Regions from separate parts of the Homo sapiens genome. Here region 1 is linked to region 2. Evidence: fine-mapped expression QTL. A gene starts in region 2. The other region holds a variant in brackets. All regions are shown on one strand. Distances are from middle to middle.

Region 1 (15,436 bases), 34 kb before region 2:
CATGGCATCATCCTAGGTATTTTTTCTCTCTTCATTACAGCCACCTAACCTCAGGGGTATAAAGGGAAGGATGTGAGGAAGGAGAAAATTCTCAAGATCTGACCAATAACTTTGCCTTTGTTATTCGTTCTTTGCCCCAGCCAAGGTCTCTAATTCCTTCCTAATATTGCCAGTATAGTCCCTATGACATTGAGCTGGTGCTGCTGCTTTTCTGATTTGCAGTAATCATGGTGCAGACAAAGAAATCTGGAGGAAAAAAAATTGGCAAACCCAAAGCTTTCTCAAGAGAAATTTCTATTTCTCACAAACTTATCTGTAATGAGTTTAACTAATATTTACTAATCTCTAAGGGAGAAGTCACTCAGAGAAAAAAAAAGACATTGGGCTCCATCTGACCCAATTCGATTTAGAAGAGAATTGAAGACCATCTCCCCTGTGTCTGCCACCCACCCTCCCCCTTTTGAAATGCAGCAAGCTTGAAGCAGGATGATGACAGCAGTTTGTGGGAAGCGGCCAACTCTGAGAGTGGGGAAAAAAGATAAGATTACCTAGGAATGCTTAAGGTAAGGGACATTTATTTTCCTACTTAGAGACAAGGTAAGACTTCCAAAGAGGACACTGAAAATATCTGAAGGGATAGAGTGAGGACATAGGCAGGTGCATGAAGATAAAGAGGAAGCCCAGGCCATTGCTGGTATTTTGATGATTAAGAACTGGCACAAATTAGTACCACACTCACAGTGAAAAAGGCAGGGCAGTGAACAGGGAAATGAGCCTTCCTGCTGCACTCTGCAGGGCTGATGCAAGAGGCCTTATAAATCTGGCCTGGAAAAATTTGGCCGCCAGGCTGTGAATGACCTTGGTGTTACTCTCTCCGGAATACCAACATGGGGCCGGGGTTCGGGTACGTTGGATACTGTGGGGTTCCTGCAGGTATTCTTCAAAATTTCTCAACCAAATAATGATGCAGATATTATTTACTTGTTCATAAATTATTTTCTAGACTATGGTATTGAATCTGTTTGCCAGTTGGGAATTTGGGGTAGTCCAGCAATGGTTATTTCCCATTCTACCATGAGGGCTTCTGGCTGGAGCTTCAGGCTATATTAAAGCATAATTTCCTCTTCAATTTTAGTGAAAAGGCCTGGGTCTTTCATTCCAAAGTCATTTCTGACATCAGAATTATCTCACAAGTAAAGAAAGGGATGGTCGTATTAGAATTGCTTCCTCTGCTTTTTATTCTGCCACCCTCACCATCCATCTCAGAACTCAAGCTCTGAGCATATTTTAATTTCCTTCCGCATTGCCTATGGGCATGAAGCACCAAATCAGCCTGACTTATGGGAGGGGCATATCCTCTTTTCACTAAAGCCCAGCTCTCAGTCCTTCAGCAACTGAAAGTCAGTGGCAATGCAACCTTGGTGCTGCTGTGCTGCTATTGATCTCTTTGATGAAAAGTCACTACTTCCAGATCATATATCTCTTCTACTCTCTGGCATACCACATTAATTTACAGAATACAAATAAATTTTCACCCCACTGACAAAGAAATCTCCATGGAGAGGATCTAAACTGTTCTGAGAAATCCACATTCTGTTGGCCACAATGATGTTCCAATTTCACCACTAACCTGCTTTGCTTTCCTCTTTTCCTAGCTTTATTCTAGTCTTTAATTTTCATATACTTCACAACTTTCCAATCCTCTTCCCTGCAGTATAAGCATAAAAGTTTGCCTTGTCCATAGATGGTATAAGATGTGGACACTTGGATCAGACCTATTTCAGAATCTCCCCTTAACCTGATTATCACACACACACACCACCTTTACAAAGGCACTTCTTTGTTTTCACATGCCTAGATTAGACAGAAGAAAAGGTAAAAGTAACAAAACACAAAGTAAGAAAAGACTCTGAGTTGCAAATTTTGGAAATTAACCATAGGGTCTCTATGCTTCTGACCAAAATTCCTAAATGATAAACACCCTGTTAAGAAATGTTTTGTAAATTGCAGTTTTTCCAATAACTAAATATTCCTACATTCCTGACTACATGCTGGTAAGTTTTCTTTACAGTGTCTGAGGTGTGGGGAACAATGTGGAGAACGGTCTGGAGAAGAGAGGGAACACAATGTTATGGAGGAACAGAAATTTCAGTAGAGCCAGAACACAGAGTAGAAGGTGGAAGTGGTAAGAGGTGATGTTAGAGGGGAAAGGGGGGCCAAATTATGATAGACCTGAAAACCATTACAGAAAGCCTTCAGGCAATGTAAAACCTCTGAGGGATTGCCAGTATGAAAATATCAAGATAATTAATCTTTGAATTTGGGAAAGATCACTGTGCCTTAAGTACAGAGTCTAGACTGGAAAGGGGAAGAACTGTGGCTAGGAAGCCTATTAGGAGGCAATAAAAGGGGCCCACACAAGTGGTAATGGTGGCCTGAACTAAGTATTAACAGTGGAGATGGATAGAGGTGAGCTGGTTTGAGACAAATGAGCAGGAAAAATTGAAAGGACCTTGTTATTGTGTTTCGTGTAAAGAAAGGAAAAGAGAAAAATCGAGGAATTCGCCCAGTTTTCTGGCTCAGAAACTAGATAAATAATGGTCCCATTTATTAAGTTAAGGCACACAAAAAAGAAATAATTTAGATGAAAGCACTTGGCCAGTTGAGTTTGTGGCATTTTTTAGTTTAAAATGCCTTTAAAGAGCAACTACAAGGCCTGTGGCAAAGCTTTCCCTGTAGTGGAACAGGGAACCAACAGCATTCCCTGTAGTGGTCTTTCTTCCTGAATTGAAAAGGAGCATATTTGCTGGTCCCAGAACTTAAAGCACCCCACCACTGTCACCAGAAACCCACACTGTACAGAAATACTGGCTACTAAGAGGACCGCCACACTGCATAACTTCAGGAGGCATTACAGTCTTGTTGCCACAATGTACCTCTGTCTTTAAGAAAATTATTTTTAACGGAATCTCCAACTAGGAGACCTCTGAGGCCATGTGACAGAATTCGTGTAGTGTCACCCTGCTCTTGCTGCCCTCTTCTTTAAATCTTTGTGGTGGAGGAAATAAAACCAACCAGAAAATTCTTACTTGAATACTGGAAGGAAAAGCAAATATATTGGGTTTTTTTAAAAATAAAAATCGGGTTTTTTGGGATAAAATTTGTGAATCCCAAACACAAGTCTGGTTTTCAGCAGGATTTCTCCATTCTGTTAGGCCAGCTGTAGCCAAATTGGAATATTCCTTTAATTTATTTGTCAGACCTCCTTAAGGCTGCATTTAAAACAACCAGGCTCTGATTAGTGATACTTGAGATTTACGTATGGAAAGGAAATCAAAAGTCCAGGAATTAACTGGGAAAGGTATGACATTTATTGCCATATTGTAATTGAATAAGCAGCTACACTGTCACAAACTACAATGTTCTCAGAAAGAAATAATTTGCCATATGATTTATTCAGTATTTGGACCTTAAAATCATTAGTTATTAAAGCAGAAAGGGACTTGGAGATTATCTGACCCAATTTCCTCATCTGGCAAATAATGAAACTGAGGCCCAAATAGTCTAAATGTGTCATTGAGTAATGGCAATGCTTTGTTGAGAAACGACAATGTTGTGTGTGGGAGTAAAGTCACCTAACTCCAGGCCTGTGCTCTTACCACTGATCTACACGCTTCTCCATGAAATAACTCATAGGCTAATCTACAGAACCCACCACAAAGAACCTGGAAAGCTGACAGTACATCTACCTAATTTCCTATTGTATGTATGTTCCAAGTAATGCAATCATCAATTTAACAATATGAAAACAAGAGGTTCCTGCAACCACGAATTCATTGGCCAGCTGGCTTTGTCAGTATTATTAAGTGTCCAAAGTGCTTCACATGATACCAAAAAAAAAAGGCTTATTATCAACCCACTGTCAAAATCTAGCTTAGTGGTTCTCAGCCAAGGATAATTTTGCCCCTCGAAGACATTTCATAATTTCTAGAGACATTTTTAGTTGCCACAACTGGAGAGTTGCTACTGGCATCTTGTGAGTAGAGGCCAGGATGGTTTAAAACATGCTATAATGCCCATGGCAGCCCGCACGAAGAGAATTATCCAGACCAAAATAGTGATAGTGCTGAAGTAGACAAACTTTGTTTCTATTCATTTTGCAAGCAGTAACTCAAAACCCCTCCATGCCGGGTGCAGTAGCTTACACCTGTAATCCCAGCACTTTGGGAGGTCAACGCAGGAGGATTGCCTGAGCCCAAGAATCTGAGACCAGCCTGGGCAATATAGTGAGACCCTATCACTACAAAAAAATTTAAAAATTAGCTGGACATGGTGGTGCATGCCTGTAGTCCCCACTTACTAGGGAGGCTGAGGTAGGAGGATAACTTGCACCCAGGATATTGAGGCTACAGTGAGCCCTGATCACTGTACAGTGAGCCTGATCCCAGGCTACTGCACTCCAGCCCGGGAAACAGAGCGATACTCTGTCTCAAAACAAAAAAACAAAACAAAATAAAATCCCTCCATCACTGGATACAGGTAATGGTGCTGCTTCACAAGAACTGAAAAGGGAAGAGTGGTGGACAGCTGTCTGGGAACAGAACAAATGCATTCCATAAAGCCAGTGTAACAACTCAGCTGAGCAAACACCCTTAGGAGGAAGTATGGGGCATTGGCTGGAGTCCAAGGGACTGTGTTCATATTCTAGTTCTGTGTCCTTGGGAAGTAACTGGTTGTTGATTTTTTATTTCCTTTCCACACATAAATCTCAAATGTCACTAATCCGAGACTTGTTGTTTTAAATTGTTCCCAAGGACAAATATATCCCTAAGTCCTGGTTTTCTCAGATGTAAAATGAGGGTAAAAAATAGGACACTCTTCCCAGGGTGGTTGTGAAGATTACATGAGATGATGTATATAAAGTTCCTCATATGGTGCTTTCGTCTAGTAAATGCTTAATAAGTGGCTATTGCCACCAAATTTAGAGCTTGACAGAATTAGTTGTGGAATCTAATTTTCCCATTTTATAGATGACAAAACTAAGTCCCAGAGATTTGTAAATATTATTTCTTATATTCTCACTAGTGTTCCATTTGAGGCCTAGAGAGTAGACATTCAATAAATATTATGTTAGTTTTATTTGTCACGAAATTCTCAGCATCTCAGGAAAGAAATAATAAAAATGTGGTGATACGGTTTGGCTGTGTCCCCATCCAAATCTCAACTTGACTTATAGCTCTAAGAATTCTCACCTAATCCGGGAGGGACCCAGGTAAAGGTAATTGAATCATGGTGGCCAGTCTTTGCCATGCTATTCTCATGATTGTAAGTAAGTCTCATGAATCTGATGGGCTTATCAGGGGTTCCTGCTTTTGCTTCTTTCACATTTTCTCTTGTGGCCACCATGTAAGAAGTGCCTTTCACCTCCTGCCATGATTCTGAGGCTTCCCCAGCCATGTGGAAGTGTAAGTCCAATTAAACCTCTTTTTCTTCCCAGTCTCGGGTATGTCTTTATCAGCAGCATGAAAATGGACTAATACATGTGGGTAGTATTGTCCCCTTTCACAAATGGACAATTGAAGCCAAACATTATGTATCTTACCTGAGGCTACCTTTTGGCAAGTAAGAACCCTGATCTTCAATGTAATACTCAAGTGCTCATTTGCTAATTTCACAGCAAGGCAAGTTTCAGATCATTTCTACTTCCTTTTTTCAAGGGTTTGGCCCTAATTTTATCATTTAGATATATCCATGTTTCCCTCAAAGGTGGAAGTTTCCAAAGGGAAGATGATCAATCAATTGCTGACAGCATAAATCATCCATAGGCAGTGTCTGAGACAGGGCCCATTTCATTTTTCATCTTCTTGACAATAAAGCAAATTAATCCACCAGCACTAATAAACCTTGTATCAATTTATCTAAATTGGTCAAGAATAAGAAAATATCAGTGGTTACAATGCTAATGAGCAAACTTTTTTTTTTCTCATAAGAATTCTGGGCCAGTGGTGATTTTGAAAGGGAATCTGTGAAGGAGTTCAAGATCCTCTATACAGGTGATGTGTTCTGTGTAGTTTTCCAAACTCTCAGTGAGTCAAGAGTTTATCTGAAACCCACAGAGAGAAGGCCAGACCAAGTAATAAAGCCTTCAATCCTAAGAGCAAATACAAAGACTTCCTGTCCTGCTCTACCACAAGCATACAGAGAAATGTCAGAATTGGATAATACCAGGCAGTCATTAAGATATTAAAAAATAATAATAGTAAGGTAAAAGCAGCTACACATATAATTGTCAAGCATGTCCAGTGTTAAAATCCACTGATGTGGCCCAAATTTGTAAGTGTATTCCTTACTTCCCCATTTCATTAGTATTATCTTCCAGATGTTTTCAGATCTGGAATGTCTGGTGTCTGGGACACCAAGGGTCAGGTACAAGATCTCTTTGTCAAACTGCCATTTATGCTGCAGGCCCTGAGCCCTACCCCATCCAACCCCTCATCACTGGAGGAAAACACAAGGGTAGGTAAGGCCATAGCAGCAAATCACTTGGCAGGTTTCTTTGTTATTATGTTTTAAAGATTCCTGTTTCCTAATTCTAGATTCTGCTTTTCTTAATTTTTTTTTTAACTAGATGAATTTTTTGGAAATCAAAATGTTCTCTGTAGTTTGGAACTACAGCTTAGGTGGGAAATCATGATTAAAGCTTTTCCAATCCTAAGCAAAATAAATAAAAAAAGATGTACAGAATTTTATTGTAATGCAGGCTAGAACACACGCTCTACATTGCCATGCCATGTGAATTTCATGTCTTTGTGGTTTGGCTCTCTTGTCTAATTGTTTATTTGGTCCACTCGACCCTTTTGGATGTAGACAGGATGAATGTGTTATTATTTTTGGTATCCTAGTCATGTTTCCTACCCCATAGTAGAGCAGATGTTTGTGAGAACAAATAATGTGAATGGTCCAGAGAGAGAAAACCAAGTGAAAAAACCACTGCTAACTTTTCTTTATGCATGTGGGATGTAAAAACACCAACGTATGTTAATGTTGCTTTATTATTCAGAGGGAGTTGAAGTTCATTTTCTTTCCTTGAAGTCTTACTCTTTCTTTAGCCTTGTGGGTGTGCCTTTTGTGGGACCCTGTTAAAATTTAAAAGATAAAAACTTTAATCTTTCACAAAAAGTTGTGAAACAAAGAAATTGCATGATTAAATGAATCATTTATATTTAGTAGGACAATTAAAGATAAAAAAACTTTGATTTTTTATCTTTAATTGTCCTACTAAATATAAATGATTTATTTAAACAAATTAAAGTTTTTATCTTTAATTATCCTACTAAATATAATTCCCAATTGAATGTTTAACTCATAAATTCTGTATGATAATAAAGCCATTTAGCCATCTGTCAGTTAATTATCCATGGTTTGCCTCATCTTACAATTTTGAGGATCAAACAATTAAGACCTTAAAAGTCTGCCTGTTGGAAATTTTAATTCCAATTAAGAAAGTCTAAAGTTTCCAAGTACCTTACCTTCTGGTGATTCAAAATACTCAATTAAGAGTAATGAAACACATTTCTGTGTTAAATGACTATGTGAAAAGTCTAATTGTATACATAAATTGGTTAATATTTTAATAACTATGTTAACATATTAACTGTTTCCAAAATGAAGATTTTTAGTAAAAATTCTAGTCAACCCACATTTTGCACTAGCCCCAATAATTTTCTTTCTGAAGCCACACTTCTCCTTCCAACTAATCCAATGCCCCTAAATGATGTTGTTTCAATTAGTATACAATGCCAGATATTTAGAAGATTCTGCTTTATATAGTCCAAATCAAATCACATAAATCAGTTAAAATTAACTTAGTTACAGGCAATTTTATTGCATATAACAATTTTTTTTGTTATCTAATTATGGGAAATAATAAATAATTTTAATATTTTATATTTTGGCCATCACTTTTTTTTTAATTTGGGGGGTTTTATTTTATTTTATTTTATTTTTAAGGTTGTATAGACATAAAAATGATTCTTACAGTAAGCATTACAAATTTGTTTTTGCTATCTTATTTATTATTTTGTTTATACCCTTACTGTGTTCAAAGATACATTTGAGGCAGCTCTTAGAAATATATGTAATAGAATATAAGGAAAAATTTTTCAATACAGTAATTCAAGAGGACAGAAAAATAAAATCAAGAAAAGAAATAAAGTCACGAAGTAAAGTTAAAATAGAAACATCATTGCTCAGAGACACATCATGAACTAGGCTCTGACCTTTCTATTATCCAAAATGACAAGAAGAAAAATCATCACTTACATGACCCACAGTGTCCATAGATTAAAAAAACAACAACATAGTTGCTCAAACACACACAAGTATTCCTCAAATTAAGGCCTGAGAAACATTCTTCCCATTAGTCTGCATATAGAAGATTGTGTGAAATGTAAATAACAGCATTCTCAACAATATCTCAGTAGTAAATACAAAAATGAGAACATTCAGGATTGTTTCTACCAATGTCTCTCAATGAAGGTCAACAAAAACACAATGCAAAAACAAAATCAAAAACAAAAATCCAGTTGAATGAATGCACCCGAGAAAGAAAAACGCTAAAATGATGCAGTATAAGGCAGCAGCTCCCTCTTGTCTGACAACCCATTGAAGATATTTTAGAGGATCTGGAAGAGTACTTGGACTGTATATTCTCAGGTAATACTCCATAAACTTGTAATAAACACTGAGTACTAGTAAATTCAAAGTATTATTTTCAAGTAAAGAAATAAAAAATCACAGTTTCTCAACGGATACATATCTGGATTTTATTTAAAGTTCCTATTTATCTAAAGTGTTCCTAGATATAACTAATGTTCTTTTCAAGGGTTACCAGAGTAAAGTCCTTAAATGGGCCCCTCCACCACTCTCTGCCCACCTGCCCACCCCAGGTGTGTGAAATGACATGGTCTTTAATTCCTAACCTCTTCCCTTTCCCATCCTTCTCATTAAGAAGAAAGACAAGACTTCCTGAAGCATTAATACAAAACAAACAAAGTTCTCATTTTTTTATTTGGAATTAATCCAGAAATTAAGAGAAAAGCAACGCCATAGACTGAAGTGCCAACCTCTACTATTCCTCCATCTCCC[G/A]GCTGTTTGGTGCCAAACCTGTCATGTATCATAGTTCACAAAGCTCTGAGGCCAGATGGTAAGGGCATGGATTGCTTTGCAAATCACTAGAAAGCACTTGGAATTAGCCTGGTGTTCAATCAGCTATCCAACATTTGACCTTCTACAGACACAGACAGAAGCCCTGCTCATCAATAGCTCCTAAAATGGGCCACTATTATTTTTTTGGCCTTTCTCGCAGGCCTAAGTCTAGATCCTAATTTGACCCAGTACAAATAATTAGGCCTAAACTCACTGGGCAAGTACTACTTTCATAATGAACCAGAGGAAGAGTGCCAGTTTGTGCAGTCTGTTTTTGTAATCCACATCCTTTTCACTAAGTTCACTCTCTTTAAGCTCATAATAAACAGGCTCAATAGCCTAAGACTTTCTCTTTGAAAGGGGACTCCAATCGATACTAAAAATATTTTATAAAATTACCATTTATATCCAAGAAGGAATCTGTAAAGACCTCTAGGCTTAGAATAGTTCCAAAAGTCTATGCCCTCAACCCATCATCCTGGTATTTGGAGAAAAACCTTAGTGCTTTAGCACTAATGTATCCATTTTTTTAGCACTAAAAAAGACATGCTGGGATTTTGAAGTTAAATTCATAGAGAGACTATTAGTTTACAGAGGTGAGGCAAGAATTAAGAAAACTAACAAGGGATGCAGAAGCAGCCAGGGACCACACCAGCAAGAAACAGTTTCCACCTTCAGGCCTAAAAGAGACAAGGGGAGCAAAGCAGTGTAACCAAAGGCATGTCAGAATTGATTGGAGAGGCCGGGCACAGTGGCTCATGCTTGTAATCCCAGCACTTTGGGAGGCTGAGGTGGGCAGATTACGAAGTTAGGAGTTCAAGACCAGCCTGGCCAACATAGTGAAACCCCATCTCTATTAAAAATACAAAAAAAAATAAAAATTAAGCCAGGCATGGTGGTGCACACCTGTAGTCCCAGCTACTCAGGAGGCTGAGGCAGGAGAATCGATTGAACCTGGGAGGCGGAGGCTGGGGTAAGCCGAGATTGTGCCACTACACTCCAGCCGGGGCAACAGAGCAAGACGATGTCTCAAAAAAAGAAAAAAAAAAATTGACCGGAGTTGTAATCTGAAAAGGAAAAAGCCATTTCTGCAATTGCAACACAGAAGTCAAAGCGAAGTAGAGGAGACCAAGAAACACTAGGCCCTCTTTCTCCTCTGTGTTAGAAATAACCCTCAAAAGCCTAAAGAAATTGAACACTCGAAAAAAAGGATTCTTAGCAAAGCAATTTTACTTCTGCGCAGAGTGGTGTCTCCTTGGCCAGTCACCATGAGAGCACACCTGAACAAAGGGCACGAGAGCCTTTATTCCTGATGCAAGTCCTGCCCCTGTACCCTTTCCCCATTGGCTGGGGTCGGGTCGTACAATCTAAACTAATCCGCTTGGCTAAACATTTGATTTTTTTTTAGATAAGGTGGGCATGTAAAAGAAAGTGGAGAGGAAGGGGAAGGGGTGTCTGTTATGAGCTAGAAAGTTAGTCCTCTTTCCAAATAAGGAAAGGAATGTGAGCTGTTACTGATAATGCCTGGTATTGTAGTGTGCCTGAGCATCTAACAAAGTCAAAAAGGAAAAAAGGAGAAAAAGGAAAAGTTGGGGGGGTACTATTAATTAAAGAATAAAAGATTAATCAGATTATCTGAAGAGAAACCTCATCATATCCCACAGCTGGCTTTCTCATCTGCTGTGGAAAACTCCCACTGGCTGAACCTAAGTAGAAGTCAAGGCAAGGGAGCCTGCTGGCATAGCCCACAACAGAGAAGAAAGGAAAATGAGGCAGAGGGTGGAGAATAACGAGTGCAATGACCTTGCAAAACAATGGCATTTCTGGACCTTCCATGAAGTACTTGGAACTCACGTGAATGCAATTATTGTGGGATCTGAGGCACTCAGCTAACTGGTGCTGTGTAGAGGCAGGTCTCTCCATGAGAAGAGCTCATAATCATTCTTGGTTTCATCCTCTCAAGGGAAAAAAAATACCTTTATACTATCCAACAAATAGAACTTTTCACTTATGTTTTTAAAATATTTGCTGATTTCATAAAATTTTGCCTGATTAATGGCATTTCCAAAGGCAGCATTTTTATTTTTCTCCTACAATGACAGAGCATTATGTGGAGATAGTGGAGATGTGTGGCTATCCAGCAACGTGTCCCCCAACCCTATGCTTATGGAAGAGAAAGAGAGAAGCTTTTTTTTTTTTTTTGAGACAGGGTCTTTTTCTGTTGCCCAAGCTGGACTGCAAGTGGCATGATCATAGCTCACTGCTGCCGCAACCTTCTGGGCTCAAGCAATCCTCCCAACCTCAGCCTCTCTAGTAGCTGGGACTACAGGCACAGGACCACCACATCTGGCTAATTTTCATATTTTTTCTAGAGACAGGATTTCACCATGTTGCCCAGGCTGGGTGTATTTAATCCAGCTGTACCCTGATCTTCATTATAGACTCAAGTTTCAACTCCTTTATAATTGACAATGCACAGAGAATCTCATTTCCTAATTGTGGGAGAGAGAATATAACGACGATATAAGAGAATACAAAGACAAAGGAAAGAGAAGCTTGATGGCAAAGTGCTAGCAAGAACTCTTCACATATGGCTATTTTCACATCTTAAATGTAATTTGCACATATTCAACAAGTAAACGTTTCAAAAGGTAATTTAATCTTAAGCTAAACACCTCGTCTAAGTCAAAAGACAGACGTCAAGCTTTTTTTATGTTAAATGTAAAGCTTGGAAGAATACTTCCTAAAACACTCCCACGACACACATTTCTCATGAAAATTATACCTTGCAATGAAAATGGTGACATAGCCTAGCATGCATTCACTCAATACTGCTCCATACAGAGAAAAGGGAAACTAAGGTCATCAACAATAATTTAAGGTTTCTGAATTATTCCAGAAAGTTTGGCATTCCCAGACTGAAATTTTGACTGGAAGCTGGAATGTTCCACTTGCCAGCAGATGGCTTATTAGATGAGAATACCTTATGAGCTGTGTAAGAACCTCTTAACCCTGGGAAGTCCTGATGGATATAACTGCAGAAAACAAAATCATAATTACATGAGGCTTAGATTGCTCTGTAACATACAAGGTCCAGGTTATATTACAATCCTTTAATTTTCTTCAAATTTAATTAGAAGTAGCTCAAGTCCCTTCCCACTAATATTAGCAAGAACACTGATATTAGTCAGTTTGTGCTCTGCACACTCCTTAGAATCACTGAGATAGATAGATTGACAGATTAATAAAAACTGACCTTCCAGCTTTCCAGTTCTTGAGCAGGGAAGAGCCTCAGTCTGTGGCTGCCACCACTGCCATTTGCTCTTTGAGGCCATACCAAGCTACTGTGGAGCACTTGTCTCTCACCATCTGTCCAAGCTGTTGTGCCATCTGTGGTCTAAGCCAACAAGCACTATTTGTTGATGGGCAGCTCCCTAGCAGCTTCACTCATTTTTGGGCAAAGTCTGGCAATGGAGAGGCTTTTCCTGACCCTAAGGCCATAGCTCTGTCCTCACAGGCATCTCATCAGGCTCCTGACCCTCAGAGTTGCAGCGTCTAAGTGAGTTCAGACCTTTACCTTCCAAGAGACTTACAACCCTTTCCTCTTCCCACTCTTTGTGGATAAAACCAAGGTTACACATTTATTCTCCTTTCAACACTGTAAACTTGGATTGGCTCCTTCTTCTCTCTTTTGAGAAAATTAGATCTCATTGCTTCAATTGCCTTAAATGGGCACGCAAATACACACACACACACACACACACACACACACACACTAGGCACACAAGACTTTTTAATGGCTTTTTCTTTTAAAAGGTTACATGTCAGCCTGCCAATATCATCAAAGTGGAAAACATCTATGAGTAAGAAAACCTCAGCCTAGACACCCTCTGAGAGAGGAAAAATCCCATTTCCTTCCTTCCCAATGAGGTTGCTATAAAGGAAAATGAAGCACATAATTTCTCAGAAGATGACCCTCATATACAAAATGTGTAACAAATTTATTTGTTCGTGTATTAATTCAAAAAGTATTTTTGAGCTCCAGCTGTCTCAAGCAGCTCAAATGTCACTGGAGATAGAATAATGAGGAAAAATGTATTGTCCCAGCTCTTATGGCATTCAGTCTGGCCATCATCAACAAAAAGTGATCAACAGACTACAATGGTGCAAACCACTGCCCTTACCCCTGGAGAAACAGGAAAAGCACAAGACTCTATCCCTGTATTTGAAGGGTATTTAGACATAGCTAAGTACATAAAATGATTAAACACCATGCCTCATGCTAAAAACCAAAAGTACAAATGATAGTTTCCATACACAATCCTAAAAATGACTGAACAACTGCCAGATTTAGGGAAAACAGAAATAACTTCAGGAGGTGTAAGCACTTTAGCCAGGAGCCAAGGAAGGTAAAGGACACTGACAAATGGTAAAGAGGAAAAAGAAAATTCCCAAGTCACATTAGAAAGTGAGAAAATGTTTGAAATCTTAAGGAACTCAAATAACTTTTAAGAGGACCAAAAATGCTTAGTTTAGTTTTATTTTTAAGTGAATGTTTAAAATAATGCAGACTCTCAAATCTTATCTATCATTTTACTCATAAAGCTGCTGTCAGCTGTGTTTTCAACTAGGAATTATCTGATAGACTCAAAACCCATAAAACTGTCCCTCAATCTTCTTTTTCTCATAAAAAGTATTTCTCTCTGTTACTTCTTCCTCTAGCCTCCTTTATGATGGTGAAGAATTAGGTAGAGAAACTTTCCTTTCAGAAACAGAAACTTTGTGTAATCTCAATGGAAAAGTAAATCACATGATCTTTCTGAAAGATTATTTAGCAATAAGCATCAAAAGTCTAAAACTGAGCAAACCATCTGGCCTCATAAATCTACTTTCTAGGAATTTATCTAGAGACATAATCATAAATTTGCACAAAGAGTTTGATGAAAGATGTTTATTGTAATGATATTTGTAGTAGTAAAATAAATTTAAGGCAACTTAGCTACATAAATTATAGTATAGGCATATAAAAGAATTATCTTGAAAATATTTAAGGATATTAAAAAATGCTCAGAAGGTGAAAAAAATCATGTCACGAACTATGAACATATGATCCCAAGTATCTAAAGCATTACATAGGAGAAAAAGATATTAAAATGTTAAGACCTGTTATCTCTGGGTGGTAGTATTATGAGTGAAATGTACCCTTTCCTTATGCTTTCTGGTATTTCAAATTTTTACAATAGAGATACACACATACTCACACACACTCACACTCACACATACACACACATATAAACAGCTAGTTCTAAAAGGGATTAATCTCATGTTTTTTAACTGTCAGGGGAGTATTTTGAGACCCTGAACCCAGTTTCTAGTCAATTTTGGATTTATTAATATTAACCATCTTCCATAACCCTCCTGCTTCATTATCCATTTACCAAATGGCATGGAAAGTAAGCCATGTACACTAAGCCTGCCTAAGATGAGAAGAAAACACTGGCGTCCGCCAGTAACATTGTTTTTCTTTCATGTCCACTAAGCCTTACTCAGCCACTAACCACCATGCCTTGGGCAGGGAAGCCCATTTAGAATTTTACACTCATTTTTAAATCCTAGATTTTCTCTACACCACTAAAGAAAGTATGGCTTCCAACTTCAGGAGCCCATGCCCATCACTCAAACCAAAATCAGCTGGGGGGGACTGACTACCCTGCTCTCCTGCTATGCTGTGACTCTGAGGCAGCCTCTCTAACCTGACTCTGAGGCCAGAGTGAACCAGGTTGGGAGCACAACTTAGAGAACTGGCTCCATTATAGCAAGATTATCCTGGAAGGGAAGCTTCCCATTCCACATGAGGATACAGAGAGCCACAAAGAGCATCGCTCTCACACTCACAACAGCAACAAAAAAGTAAGGTAAGCTATAATCATACGTCCTTTCTTAAATCCATAAAAAAGCTGAAGTCATAAGGCAGTCAACTAGCCTAAAATCTAAGGAGAGACAAACGCATGTAAGGGAAGGAGAGAACATAAATATTTTATTACGCAGAGCAGATGCAGCTGAACACCTATATGAAGAAGTAGCTAGAATAGTTAATAAATCGTTGGAGGCAGATTGTGACCTGGCAAGAGTATGTAGAACCCATGGAGGCCACAAATTTGGGGGAATTTTGTACCATATTGCAGGCTTTTTATACACAGACCTCAACAAACACTTATTAAAAAAAAAT
Region 2 (15,436 bases):
GCATTCCAGAAATCTTAGTTGAATGAACAAATGAATTTTATGCCCATTACTCCTGAGTCAGAGCCTCTCCCATAAATTGCTCCTTCTCTGCAGTAAATACTTAGAATAAACTATATTTTTGGTGAATATTTGCAATTGAAGTCCTGTATCTACTGTTCTTTTAAAGTTAAAAATCAGCTTTCACCGTTTGATTTCTATCTTCTTTAGTTATTGCAAAGTCAGGCTAATTATTTCCAAAGACTATGAAGCACACCATATTTCACAGGGTACTTCCTCTCCAAGGACTTTGGAGGAGTTTGAAAACACTTTCTCATCTCCGCAGCTATATAACAAAAGTGTGTCCTGTTATCTCCCCTGTCTTTTCCTCTCCCTTCTGCTCCCAGCCAGCTTTTTTCCCTTGCATTTCTTCAAAGATGAAACTAGCTTAGACACAACAGAACAATCACTTTCCAATACAAAACAGCTCCTTGAATTACTGGCCTGGACAACGTTCTCAAAGGCAGGGCAATTGCGCGGGGTTATAGGCAGTTGGCATGATAATACTTGGGATAGTGTCAGATATGGAAATGTCTGTGGATTCTACTCATTTCCCTATTCTTGCCATTGCCACATAAGCAAAGTAGATGGAAAAATAAAAGAAATTCACTGGATACATTAGCCTCACTGCTATGGTCTGAAAGTTTGTGTCCCCCTAAAATGCAAGTGTTGAAACCTAATCACCAATGTAAAAGTATTACCAGGTGCAGTATTGGGGAGGTGATTAGGTCAGAAGGAAAGAGGCTTCATGAATGAGATTCATGCACTTATAAAAGAGGCTTCAGAGAGGTTCCTGTCGCTCTTGCCATGGGAGGTTACAGAGAAAAGACAGCCATCTGTGAACAAGTTAGCAGTCCCTCACCAGACAACAAACCTGCTAGTACCTTGATTTTGGACTTCCCAGCCTCTACTACTGTCAAATACATTTCTGTTGTCTGTAAACTACCCAATTTATGGTATTTTGTTATAGCAGCCTGAACAGACTAAGACACTAATGGATCTAGATTTTCTAGTAATATAAGGATCAAATAGGTCTCTTATGGTTCTTAATAAGCGAACTCAAACAGCAAAACTGATTTCCTCTGCTCTCCACTTACTTAACTAGACAGACACAACCTTTAGGCTTCATGTACCATTCTTAATACACTACTTAACATGGTATTTTTGGGTTGCTCTTCCTGAAAGGCTGTTCTCTCTTGGAATTGTGCCCTCTTCAAAAAACATTAACATCCCCTACTAAAAAAGAAATTAATATTAATCAGGGAATTGATCCAATCATTATGTAGTAGCATTCCTCATATACTCATCCAAATGGCAGATTGTTCTAATGCTGTGATATGTATTTATACCTTTTCAGCAGGCCCCTGCCATCTGGATTTGGAATTCTTTTAGCAGAAGACAAAGCCTTTTCATGTTTACCGATGAAGCTGCAAAAGGAAAGACCCACAGGAAAAACAATCCCTGACTTTCCCTTTCTGTCATTCGCCCAAATCTCCCTGGCTCAAAACCTCATCAGCATCTTCTACTCCCTCTCTCTTCACATCCAGACACCAAGTCCTGCCAGTTCCTTCTTTGATGCATTTTTCATCATCTTACTTGTTTTCCATTCCTTCTGCCAGCTTCCCATATTCAGGCCTTTATTGCTCTACACCTGCCTCATTGAAATCACCTCCAAAGAGAACACATCTGCTTTCGTTATTAGTGGTCTCCACTGGCTAAAACCACAGTTTCAGCTTTTTAACCTGGCATAAGTACCTCCATATACAATCTCTAGCACCTTTTTCTGTACTTAACACTACTCTGTGAACCTTCTGCTTTAGCTAAAATGTTCTAATTGGTATTTCTAACCAGATCTGCTACTTCAAATTTAAGTGGCACATTATGTGTAAAAACCAGGTGGCAAAATTATAAACATTATATAAGTTTGAATTTTTTGCCTTGTACCTACCCCTGGCCACCCTGTTGCAACTCTTTAATGGTTAATGATTCTCTCCTCATTCTGATGCTCTCCTCCTTACTCTGCTCAAAACTTTCTTCCTCTCATCTAGCCATTCCTTTGGCTTTAGACCCATCTTTTCCTCTCTCTTCCAAGACCCTTTCGGGTTAATACAACACATGGGAGGTTTTGAGTCTGCATCTTTCTCAAGGATCAACATTTGCATAATCAACCCAGGCAATTAATCAACATCCAGCAATCAGATAGAAATTTCATACTAGGCCCTCACTTGCCAGGAAGAAGGGATCAGGGTGTTTCCTGTCACCTCATAAGGAATGTCTGCCTTTTCATATTACCTCCCGTCGGCCCAGAGCTCAATCCTACATACAATATACAGCAATATACAGTGTTCTCTACCCACTCTTCCCTTCCCACTATGAGCCCACAGTGATCTTTGTCTTCTGAATTCTTATAGAGCCAAACTCCTGTGATTCATCCTGTTTATATGACACTTTGACCCTGTCATGAGTAGTTACTTGGCCTTATCAGTTTATTTTTATATATTCAAATTGGTTGAAAACTACTTTAAGGTAACAACAGCATCTTATATTAATTTATAGTTTTATATTTCAATATTATCAAGCAGTAGCTGACACATGATCACTGAAAATGGGTTAGTAGGGCTTCTTAGTCACACTGGAAGTGACTAGTAACTAACAATTCCTTCACTTAGTTGAGGTGTTGATAGAGGCCACAGGAAGGCCTGTAGAAAACAGAAAGCCATTGTCCCTAGAGGAAGAGATGCCAGAGGAAGGAGCAAGGGTCGAGAACAGTAATAGCCAAAATTCAACTGAAAAATGTGTCCAATTCAGCATTTTACTCAACATCAGGAACACATTTAGGTAACATGTTGAAAATGACAAACTTCAGATAGTTCTTATTCTATCAATTCCTCTAATTTTACTCTTTTTTTCTTTTTTGGAGATAGAGTCTTGCTCTGTCACCCAAGCTGGAGTGTAGTGGCGTGATCATAGCTCACTGTAACCTTGAACTCCTGGCGATCCTCCTGCTTCCCCTAGGCCTCAAAAAGTGTTGGGTTACAGGTAAGAGCCACCACTAGCACCCTGATTTTATTTTTCACTCTTGGGATAATATGTGTATGTACATACATCGCCTGAACCAAGCTTCATGAGCTTCAGAGTGCTCTCTGCTCTGGCAATAATGGCCATGACCTTTGTTTACTGGAGGTTTACCCATGCTCACTTTGCCCTGCAGCCATCATTCTGACACCAGAAAGCAGCAGAATGAACAAACATAACAACAGAAACAAGAGGTGTTTTTGACTACTTAAGTAGGGAAATAATAGAGCATAATAATTAATTTTAACATAGTAATACGTCATATATACAAAACCCTACTATGGAAGAAGACCCAGCCAGAAAATAAAATGCCCCTCTACTTTTAATTGATGAACCCCAAAACAATCAACTGTTTCTTTTGAAACAGGGGAGGTTATTTTCCTCCAGCTGAATGTTGCAGGGTAGACAGAGGAGGGATCTCAGCACCACCCACTGTTTTAAAAAGGCAGATTGGACCCCTGTTGCTTTCCCCAGAGACTGTAGTTTTCCTCCATATATCTTCAATTCTGTCCATGTTAGAAAGAAACCTATATGTTACCTGCAGGTGCCAGTCATAGAAAATGCATGGTTTTATGCCTAAATGATATGTGACTTTCTTTTTCCAGAGGCAGATTTTTTTTGAAAGAAATCACCTATCTAGAATGAGTTTTACTGTTGAAAACTACACTTATTTCCCTAAGTCAGATCCCTGACCTGTAAAGAAGGATCTTCTTTTAATCACTGTATTTTTTAACTTTAATTTTAAAATTATACAAATAAATACAAGTAGGTAGAGATTTTGAGTGAAATAAAGATGCATGTGTTACTGACATCAGTTAATTCTAGCATTACCATTATTAAAGTCTTTTATTGTCACGAGGAAAAGTGAAGGCAATTTTGATGCATCAGCACTTTACCTTAGTATAAATACTTTAAAGTAAAAAGAAAGCATCAGGCACTCTTTTGAGATATGCAGCTATTTTATTTCTCTAAATTCTCTATTGCCTTGACAATTATGCTCCAGTTGGATGTTCCTTCTCCATTCTTGTGTAAATATTCCAAAGCCGAAAGAACAAATGTCCAAAAGTCATTGTCACACAATTCTGTAAAAGACACAAATAAATGGAAGTCTCAAAACTTCTAATGTAAAACTTGCTGGCCAAGACATAATTTGGATGAGCAAATTTGGGGTTTGGATTATTTTAAATATAGACTTTGTTCTTAAAATTTAGTGTAACATACAGAAAAACTTGGTTTCTGATATGGCTTTACTTAGATTATGTGAGCAAAAATGAAACTGAATTATCAAATGAGTAATAGTTGTGCTGGAGAAGTCTATCTTATCTTCTTCACTGCAGACCCTTCTCAGCATTATACATGCATAGACAAACTATTCCCAAAGTTCTAAAACTTTCCCTGTTTAGCTGGGATATGATGTCTACTTCCAGTTTAGAATACAGAAGCAGACACCAAAGGAAAGCTTTGTTCAGTCTGACAAACAATAAAATGGCTTCAACTGACAGAGCTGTCCTTTCACTTTCTTAATTATAAACAAATGAACTTTTCACTGGCAATTTTTGCAATCTGTAAATGTAATACGGTTCTCAAAACAGCAAATGAAAACATTCGAAAGGTACAGCTGAAGAGAGAAAAGAGTAGGGATCAATTACTTTGTGAATTTTCTGGAAAACAAGACCATTATTCATAAGAAAATTGGAGGCTAGATCAAACAATGACAAACCTCTAGATCTCCATCATGTAGTTGGAAATTTACATCCAGAGTACCTAAATAACTTCCCTTTCTGGGGCAGCAAAGATTTTAACCAGTTTCTCGGCAGGAGTGGCAAGGCTTCAAGAATAACTGAAGGAGAGAAAGCCTGGAATGCTGCACAATTCAAAGGGCAAAAAGGTGGTTTCCGCAGACCCTTGGTACAGCAGAATGGTCACGCTAGGGAGCAATTAATCCCATAAAAGACTCAGCCTCCCCAGGAAGACCACCTCCTAACTAGTCCTTTAGGACCCTGCTATTTAAACTATCTGCCTGTTGTCACAGATAGTGCTAACCTATGGACTATCTGGGCATTCCATTGAAAGCCCAGAATTCCTATTTGGAAAACAAAGTTCTGCTAACTTTGTGTCTTGGATGTCCTGTAAAGCAAATGCAGCGAGTGTTGGGACACGCTAAACAGAATTATTCCCCGATCCAAAAAGGACAAGAGCGTGAATTAGGAGGAAAAATTCTACATCGTAAGGATAAAATTGCTCTTTCAGGTTTTACTGGGGGAGCCAGCTGGAGCCTTGGGCACGCGCGCCCTGGGGAACCTTTCCTCTTTGCCGCCCCTGCGTGTCGCCCCTTTAAAGCCTTCTTGGTCTCTCCAATCCCAAGAGTTCCGCGGCATCTTGCGCCACTGGCTAAGGCAAAAACCTCAGGTGTCTACCCGCGCTTCAGGGCGCCCCAGAGCGTAGGCGGAGGAACCCAGATCCTGTAAGTCAGCAGCCGGGAGCGCCTAGCGCGCTGCGAGAGCACAGATGGCTGGGGAGGCGCGCGGATTCCAGGCCTCTCAGCTTCCCCAGAGCGCAAACAGCGGCCGGCTGGCGCCTCCCGCAGTAAGTAAGTGGCGATGTCAGGTCGTACACACTCGCCAGCTACCTGTACAAACAGCGTCCGCTCTCTCCACTGTATGATTGTCAGTTTCTTTGGTGAGTGCTGACACCAAGGCAAGCATAAACAAAGTGGTCTGCACACCCTCCTCCTCCTTGCTCTCCCCCACTGGCCCGGCCTTGTACTTACAAGTCCACTCTAAAAGATACCTTCTAGCCACTTGCTTTGAGTCCAAGGAAACAAAGGAAATAGGGGTTGTGCACTGCACGAGAGAGTTAATCTCAAGTCTGCGAGAAGACGGGGAATCCCGGGGGCACCGCTGGCACGGGGAAAAGCAGCCTCTTCCGCCTCTCCGGACCAGCAGATTCGTGCATAAGGATGGGCGAGGGCAGAGAGGGAAGCAATGAAAAAAAGAAAAGATAAAAATGGGGAGAAAAAGGTGAATATTTCAAGGGCCACAGGGCGGGAGAGATGGAGCAAATTCCCAAACCTCAAGTCCAAGTTCTAGAAGTTGGGTGATGGGGTGGAGCCCCTTAGTGGGCGCGGCGGCTGTGTGTACAGTTTATTTATTTTTTGGATTTTCTGCCTTGAACTAAGCATTAAACATCCACCGCAAAGATTTAGGAGATAGAAGAGAGAAGAGGCAATTACTGGGATCAAAACTGATGATACAGGCGAAGTCTGAGCCAATGTCGCTTCTCACAAACTCTCTGAATTTCCTGGGCTCTCAACGCTCCTCCGCTGGGTCTCCTTTGCACAAAGGGCCCTGCCGTGGAGCAGGAAGTGGGGAGGGGACCAGGTCTGCAAGCCGTGAGCGGAGCAGAGAGAAAGAGGAGAAGTGGCGAATTATCTTAAGTGTTGATTCCCTAGGGTTGGGGGAAGCATAGTGAATGGGACGGATCCTGTAGCCTCGACTGGCCGGCTACTCCTCCGTCATCACTGGCGGCAGAACTTACACTTAATGATCTTCTTAAACGCGTTTTGAAAGTCCTTGTTGAAGTATGCGTAAATGACGGGGTTAAGCAGAGAGTTGGAGTAGCCCAGCCAATTGATTATGGCGCCCAACAGGGTGGGCATGTGGCAGCTGCTCTCGCAGAAGGGCAGAACAAGAGCCACGATGAAGAAGGGCAGCCAGCAGAGGATGAAGGTGCCCATGATGATGCCCAGCGTCTTCACTGTCTTCCTCTCTCGGGCCAGGGCCATCTTGCGCTTCGCCTCGGCGTTGCGCTCATTTTTCCTCTCGAAAGAGGCGGGGGCACAAGGGGTAGGACCAGCCTCGCTGGGCAGAGGCAAGTGCTCTTTGGAGTTGCCCACTCGGTGCACCTCGATCACCTCCAGGGCGGCGCCATCGTCACCTTGCCTCACCGCGCCATTGGCGCACAGAGCACCCCCAGCCTTGCTCTCCACGCCCAGCCTCCAGTTCCTGCTCCCCGACTCTCCATTCACACTCTTCTTGGGCTGCGGGGCGGGAGATGCTCCATGGCGGGTGTCCGCTCCGGTCTTCTCCACCTTTTTGACCGTCTTGCGGATGCGGAAGCGCGCAGCTCGGAATATGCGCCCATAGAGAACCAGCATGAGCAGCAGCGGGATGTAGAAAGCTCCAAAGGTGGAATAGATAGTGTAGCCATGATCCTTGCTAATGGTGCATGCGTCGGGGTCCGAGCGGTCTTCCGGGGTGCGCCAGCCCAGCATGGGCGGGATAGAGATGAGGAAGCCAATAAGCCAAGTGAGCGAGATGAGCGCAGCGGCGCGCCGGGGCGTCCTCTTGTTCACGTAGTCGATGGGGTCCGTGATGGCCCAGTACCTGTCCAGCGCGATGGCGCACAGGTGCAAGATGGATGAGGTGCAGCACAGCACGTCGAGGGCGATGAACAGGTCGCAGGTTACCTGGCCCAGTGTCCACTTGTTGAGCACCTGATACAGCGCGGCCATGGGCAGCACCAACACCGACACCATGAGGTCGGTGACCGCCAAAGAGCCAATAAGATAATTGGCCACGTTCTGCAGGGAGCGCTCCAAGGCGATGGCAGCCACCACGCACGCATTGCCCAGCACCGCGCAGAAGATGAGCGTGCCCAGCAGCAGAGAGGTGATCACTTGGTAGCTGACGGTCACGTCGGAGATACCAGTAGTGTTGCCGCCGGTCTCAAAGGGAGCCGGTGGTGATGTGGTGTTGTTGCCCTGACCAGGGCTGAGCACATCCATGCCTGCGCGCCCGGCGCGGGAAGGGGGAGGGAAGAAAAAGCAGCGCGAAGATTCGCCTCGCCCCTTCCCCTGGGGTCTTCCGCCCTTCTCCTGGGAAGTTTCGGAGGAAGGGAATGCAGAGACCCAAGCAGGAAGTTCTTACTGCTTCGGCGAAGGGTATCTCCGAGGAGCAGCTTTCAGGCGCTCCCTGGGCTCTCGCAGTCCAGCGCGTTCAGAAGCTCCAGCTGGGAAACTGGAGTTGGCCTGAAAGCAGCTCCAGGATCTCCCGGCGGCGGAGAGGTGGCTGGAACGTCTGTCTGTCGCTGTCCATTTTACTTTGCCGCTCCCGAACTGGCTGCCGGAGCTGGAGTCTCCCCACTAGCAAACAGTCTCCAATCCCAGAAATATCTAGAACCGAGAAGCCCCATCCTCCACGGTCACTCTGTGACCCTCCTCTCCCTATTTCCTTCCTTCCCTCTCTCCCCCTCTCTCCTCCTCTCTTCTCTCTCTTCTGCCTCTTTCGTCCCCCTTCTCCCCACCTGCCTTCCCTTTCAGTCTCCCTCTTCCTCCTCACTTCCCTTTATTTATCCCTCTGTGAGTCGCTTCGAAAGCCAGGCTCCTTCCCTCCCACTCTAACCCTCCCCTCCTAATACTTCCCCAACCCCGAGGAGTGCCTCTTTCCTCTGGGTCCCCGCCCTCCTCTCCCTCTAGCTCAGCGTCTTTGCATTCGAGTCTCTTTTTGTCAACAGAGACTCAGAACTCACTTACACACACCAGATCCCTGCCGGTCAGACCAAGGTTGTAACAAATAAACTCCGCCTCCAACCCAGCAAAACTGGGGTTGGAAAAACTTGGGGGAGGGAATTCCAACTACTCCTTGCCTCATATTATCTGCCAAATTCTTAAATCGTGTCAGCATCCCAGAGTGGCAATAGGAGATGAGAAAAGGAAGCATAGGGAGCCTGAATGGGAAGGTGAACAGTCCTGGGTCAGTCTCCCAATTATTGCTAATTGATGGAAGAAGACCGAGTGTGTCTTCCTTTTTAAAAAGCTACCTCCGTTCTCGCGCCATTGCACTCCAGCCTGGGCGACAGAGCGAGACTCCGTCTCCAAAAACAAACGAACAACGACGACAACAACAACAAAACGGTACCTCCGTTATCATCTAACAGTCCAGCCTTACTCCCTCAGGGAGAATATTGCCTGTGACTTTTTTTTTAACGTTGGGGAACCGGGAGAGAACGAAATTATAAAGGACGTGTCAAAGGACAAGGAGAGGTAAACAACTGCATCTCGAAATGAAGAACAAAACTCAGTGTGATATATATTCTAAACACACACACACTTTTCCATCACTACTACACTTGTAATTTCAGTGACACTGCCACTTCCCATAGCTTTGTGGCTAGTAAATTCAGGGATGGAAATATTTTGCATATGTGTTCTAAGTGAAGCCTGGCATTTCACATGGCCTTTTGCACTTCTTACCAGAGCCTGCAAACCTCTGGGGGAAACTTGGTGGAATCCCGGTTCGCTAGCCGGCTAGCCTCTCTTAATCTCAGAAACTGGGTTCAGCACCTGGGACAGTTCTAAGCAATGAGGTTTTATGTCGCCACCTTCTGGCAAATGTTTTAGAGTGCCATCTGGAAACCCTTATGCAGAAATGAAGCAAGTATTGAGGAAATACAACAACTTTTAGAAAGAGGAAGACAGTTATTAAAAGACAAGGTAGTATTGAGTTTTGTCTCCTTCCTATTTTCTTTAAAAATTTATTTTAGTGCCCTCTTTTGCTCTGAACCTTATATATCAGGCCTATTATATGTTTTAGCTTCCTTCGAAAGCCTGAAGTATCTGTCATTCACAAGTTCTAACTGGGAATGCCATTTTAATAAAGCTAGGCTAACACTTTCACCTGTGTTGGTTTTGTGCTGTCATAACCTGAACTTTGGAACTGACATAAATTTACCTTTTGTTGGAGAAACGAATAGTATTGCATTTTCCAAATGATTTAACATTTGGAAATGTTAAATCACTGAAAATAAAGATACTTACAAGGGTTTGTTCTAAGCTGTTTCCTTTAACAAGAAAAACAAATTTAATCACATTTGAGCATTGGTAAAGAATGGGACTTCTAAGCAACTACAGTAAACATACCACACAACATTTCACTTATACATCCTGATTGCATGCCTGAGGTGAAAGGAATGCAATCTCAAAAGCAGTTGACACTGGATAACATGAACAGATTCACTACAGATTGCAATAATCTTAATATTGTGTTCAAATCTGAGCTCTGAATTTCATAGCTCTGAATTCTCCAAGCCCAAACAAAAGAGCAATCACCAAAGCATCAAAAAGAATCCAGTTGGGCCAATGCATTACAATACAGGACAGTGTGTTTGGATAAGGTTTTGTTTGTTTTTTTTTTTTATAGTTCAGTGCTGGGCACAGTTCCCACTCAATCATTTCAGCATGCCACCACAATGAGCCTGCCATTTGTGATGATTCATGGCATTGAAAAGAAAGAGATAAGTATACATGGTAATGCTGTTTACAGACTCTGAAGAAGTCTTTTTAAGATTTGTGAAGGTATCTATTTCCACTTCTAAAGTCTCTTCACAAATACAGAACTATATTTACAGTTAAAATAGAGTTAGAGGTCCAAAAATTATAATGGGAAAATATTTAAAAGCTGAATTATCTAAAATTAAACTTTGAAATTATAGTTGAGACTATAAACAAAGTAAAATAAAGGAAACTTAAAATTTAAGAAGCAAATATATGCATATCAAGAACATAATTAAGAATTGTGTCAAACAACACATGTAAATATGTAAATCACAAATAAATCAATAAATATGTTAGTTAGAATTCTGCTTTCATCTGTTGGATCCCAAATAGTTTAATAACTGACAAATTTATTTTTTCTCATCAAGAAAGTTAAAATGCTGTAAAATCTGGAATTAATATTCCTGAGGTATAGCATTTGTTATTCTGCTTCAATATGCTATGATGTAGAATTTATCAAAGTTTTTAAAAATCCAAAGTAATTCAAGTTTTTTCTTAGTAATAATATACATAATATATCAAACATTTTATTTCTTACAATTTAAAAGTTTTTAAAGGCACACTTATGAATACTAGGAGGGAAACAGAAGTATGAAAGTATGCAGCACTGACTATGGTTCCATAGTCTGCAAGTGACTAATAGATATTTATGTTTAACTTTTTAAAACTAATAATACTGTGATATATAATAAATGATATATGCAGAATGATATTGCGTTTCTTCATTTTCACTTAGCCAATTCTTCTATGTTTAACTCTTAAAGATACAGAATACCAAATATTTCTTAAGTAAATGCTGCAAACCAAAGCTCCTGCATAAAGAGATGAGCTCTTATTCTTCAAGGCCTCTAAAGTTAACCTAAAGAAAAGCAAGCTTTATAACGGATATTATTGATGATATCATTTGAAAAGAAAAATTCTAGTCATTCTGCCTTTATTCCTTTTTGAATTTACTAGATGCCAGCATAAACTTGTCAGGTTATGAATTTAGGGTATGATATATCATCCATCATGTGAAATTTCTCTAAAATAGTTTTAAAAAGATAAATATTTTTAACATTTTCACAGGAAATTTGATACACACCCAGCATTTCAATGTAATTCCTTGACCAGGGACACAAACTAAAAAGATTTAAGCTGAAGTTTTGCTGTGAACCTTGAAGCCCTATCATTACTGAAGGCTGATGGTTGGAGTTTCTCAGTAATTGGTATGTTTGTCCATTATCCCCAAACTACGGCTGAATTGTTTTTATTACTGAAGAAAGAATCTATACAGTAAAGAGTTGAATATTTGCTTATGAGATTATAAAAGTTGTTTCTAAAAGCTCCTACTGAAAAAAAAGTTTTTACTTTTTTTTCATGTAATTGAAATTAGAATCAATTATTTTGTTAGGTTAAAAATATTATTCTAAATTTAATTCTTCCCAATCCCCAAATACTGTAGCAGTAGGGCAATTGTGTTTTGTTCAGAACTATGAATTTTGATTGGAAATGACTAGGAGAAACAACTTATAGGAAATTTTCCTTACATAATTTGGGAAATGTGGTCTTCTGATTATCACTGAAAAGATTCAAGAAATGCAACCAAAATGCCAAGAAAATAATTTTTCTTTAAAACAACACGGTTTGTTTTTGTATTGTTTTCTTGACTTTTTTGTTGTGTTTTGCTTTTTTCTTATCTAATCCTCACCATTTACCTTCTCTAATAATATCATTTCTTCACTGCTTTTTATCCCTGTCAGGCACTTGCAGGCCTGGAATTGCACTGGGTTTTCAATGATAAAACACAAACATTGGAAGCTTCAATCTCTGCTTTTGAGAATTGTATGGTTGACTTAGTGCAGTGAGTACACATACTAAAAGCACAGTACATAAAGAGTGAAAAATATAACATGTGTTCACTATGTGTGTGACTTGAACAAATTAATTAACCCTCTTATTTCCTCAGTAATAAAACGAGTGTAATAATAGACTTGTGAAGATTAAACCATTTAACACATTTCACTGGCTCATAATAAACACACAATAATGATTAAACAATAATAGTAATAATACAGATGCAAAGTAAAAATATTAATTCTCTCTCTACTGATAATCGCTCTAAAGTATGGAAAAAGAGAGCTGGATGGCCTTAGAGAGTGAAGACTGAAAAAAAAGTCTCTTTCATGGGAGGATATATTAGGAAAGAGATTTGCATGTGGATGTTACATTCTCCCCATTCTTTAAAGTATTTGGTAAGCTTCCAGTTCTCTGGGAAATTCTGAGTAAAAGACAAGTAGAAAACAAGATGTGATTGCTGCATTCTGAGACTTCTTTACATAATCAGAAGTTAGTGAAGGGAATAAAAGAACATGCCAATGAAAGTTCAATGATCAGTATTGAAAACGACCCTACTCTTTCCCTGGAAGTTCATGCATTTGTTCAAAAGCATAAAATAAGTATTTGAAATTTGTAAGTCCTAATAAAATATTTAAAGTTCAGTAAAAACCCAAAAAGAGTATTTTTATTGTGAGAAATTATCAGATTTATAGTGACAAGCATTAATAAATGTACTTTTACAATGCTGTCCTTCTGTCAATATTTTTATTGTTCACTTTTGAAAGAGTAAGAGCATAGTCGGGGTGAGAAAAATGCTTGGAATGTTAGTTCAAAATTTCCTATTAATCTAAAGATAATTGGAAATTAAATTCAATCTAACAATTATTGAAGCAAAATGCAGTTATTCTGTTTAACTTAACAGGTGGAAATGCCCACATTTTTATTTTCTTTGGCAAGTGACATTTTTGTGTAAAACTTAAATCAGTGCTTAATATTATACAGTATTTTAATGTTTCTATACAACATGCTATTATACAAATGCAATAATTGTGATTATAAAATACTGGTCTAAAACTGTGTCATTTGGTGTATTGAAGCAGTAATGTGTTGGTTGAATATAGCCACTCAGGGCCACAGTTCTATATTCAAATAACTACTCTGCAACGTACTAGCCTTGAATTATTTCCTTAATTTTTTTACATTTTATTATATATTAAATAGGATTTATTAAAAATATAAAGAATAATATAATAAATGCCTATGTGCTTAAGAAAAGCTTTTAAAAATAGCATTGATTCAATTGAAGTTCCTGTTTACTCTTGAATTTAGTGTTTATTATTCCCATGAATGTCTTTGTATTCTTATACGATATGTATGTTTCCCTAAGCAACTGAGAAATGGTATCATTCTATATACAGTCTTTTGCAACGTTTTTTTTTTTGCTCAACATTATCCTTGTGAAATTTGTCTGTATTGATACAAGCTACTTCATATAATTCTACATCATTTATTGTCACTGTTCTGTGGATTTAAATTGTATGAATAGTGCCACAGTTACATATCCATTCTCTGGTTAGATTCTGCTCTTATAAATAACACTTCTATGCACATTCTCGTGTATGTCTTTTTGCATCCATGTATCTTAGAGTAGACTAGATTAGCATGTTTCAAATAAATTACATGGGGATCTTGTTTGAAATGCAGATTTCCACATAGTAAGTCTGGGGTGCAACCCAAGACCCTGCATCTCTACTAAGCTCCCAGATGACACTGATATTGCTGCTTTATAGACTATATTTAGAGTAGCAAGGATCTAAATATACCAAGTGGAATATCGAGTCCTAAGGTATGACCAAATTCTGCTTGACTAGATAAAACCTAATTCTTCTCCAAACTGGTTATATAAAATTTCATAACCACTGCTGTGGGTTGAATTGTGTCCCCCAGGAGGATAAAGGATTCACGTTGTCTGTGAATATGACCTTATTTAGAAATAGGGTCTTGGCAGATGTAGCCAAGTTAAGATGAAGTCATACTGGATCAGTGGGTGTTCTAATCCAATGGTTGGTGTCCTTATAAAATGATGGAAATTTGAACATAGAGAAGAAATACCATGTGAAGACACAGAGACACACAGACACAAAAGAAGGAATGCCATGTGAAAACAGAGGCAAAGATTAGAGTTATGCTACCACAAGCCAACGAAGACCAGGGACTGTTGGCAACCACCAGAACCTAGGACAGGTGCATACGGCGGATTCTCCCTTAGAGTTGTCAGTTTGGGCTGTAACACTTTCGTGTCAGATTTACAACTTCCAGAAATGTAAAACAATGCATTCCTGTTGATTTAAGCCATCTGGTTTGTGGTGCTTCCTTGTGTTCCTAGCCCTTGGAAACTAATACAACCATTAAAAAATGGTTTACATTCCCATTGCTTCATCAGGGTTGACTGTTTTTTCATGTTTCTTCACAGTGGACTATCATATATTCTAATATATGATCATATATTTTGATCACATATTTTGCTTATTTTTAAATTGGTTCTTTTGTTGTTTGTTGTTTTGTTTGTCTTAACTTACTGAAGTCCATTATCTATTATGGATATTAACAACTTCTCCCTGTAGTTCTGTCTATATTTGTTTAACATACTTTGAGGACATGATAGTAGGTACATACAATGTTAGAACTAGTCTATCACCCTGCTGCTTTAAATAGTTATCCTCTTTATCCCTAATAACATCTGTTGTCTTAAAGTCTACTTTGTCTATACTAATTATTTTTTGTTATTTTTTGCCTACTATATATTTTTCTATATTTTAAATTTTGTCTTTTCAGTATCTTCAAGTTTTAGGTTAATTTCTTATACAAATACAAATATGATAGTTACTTTCTTTTCAAATCTGAAAATCTTAGTTTTTAACTGGTAAGTTTAGTTTTAATTTTATTATGACTATTCTTGTATTAGAAATTATTTTTAGGCCAGGCACGGTGACTCACACCTGTAATCCTAGCACTTTGGGAAGCCAAGGTGGGCAGATCCCTTGAGTCCAGGAGTTCAATAAATACTTTTAACCATGTTATTTTATGTTAAAAAACATGAACATACTGTGTATTTGGTGCTTCTCTTATACTTACTCTTTCCTTCTATTCTACCCAATAAGTTTTAAAATTCAT

Direction of the effects. Positions count from the first base shown, and alleles are read on the strand shown. Sizes are in standard deviations (SD) of each study's normalised expression.
For the expression in cerebellar hemisphere of the gene that starts at base 8,623 in region 2, G is the low allele of the variant in region 1 and A is the other (large effect, 2.2 SD a copy in GTEx).

What was found.
Region 1: its variant is fine-mapped to the expression of HTR1A in cerebellar hemisphere (GTEx, PIP above 0.99).

Annotation. Positions count from the first base shown.
Region 1 is chr5:63,919,455-63,934,890 of GRCh38, forward strand. No RefSeq gene overlaps it. Among named protein-coding and RNA genes, the nearest start is that of HTR1A, 35 kb to the right of the region's middle. The variant G/A (reference allele first, on the strand shown) is at 9,148.
Region 2 is chr5:63,953,823-63,969,258 of GRCh38, forward strand. It overlaps HTR1A (5-hydroxytryptamine receptor 1A), which reads right to left and starts at 8,623. Exons shown (of 1, transcript NM_000524.4): 1 at 4,052-8,623. The coding sequence starts at 7,897. The coding sequence ends at 6,629. RefSeq lists a silencer at 6,500-6,721 and an enhancer at 7,360-8,337.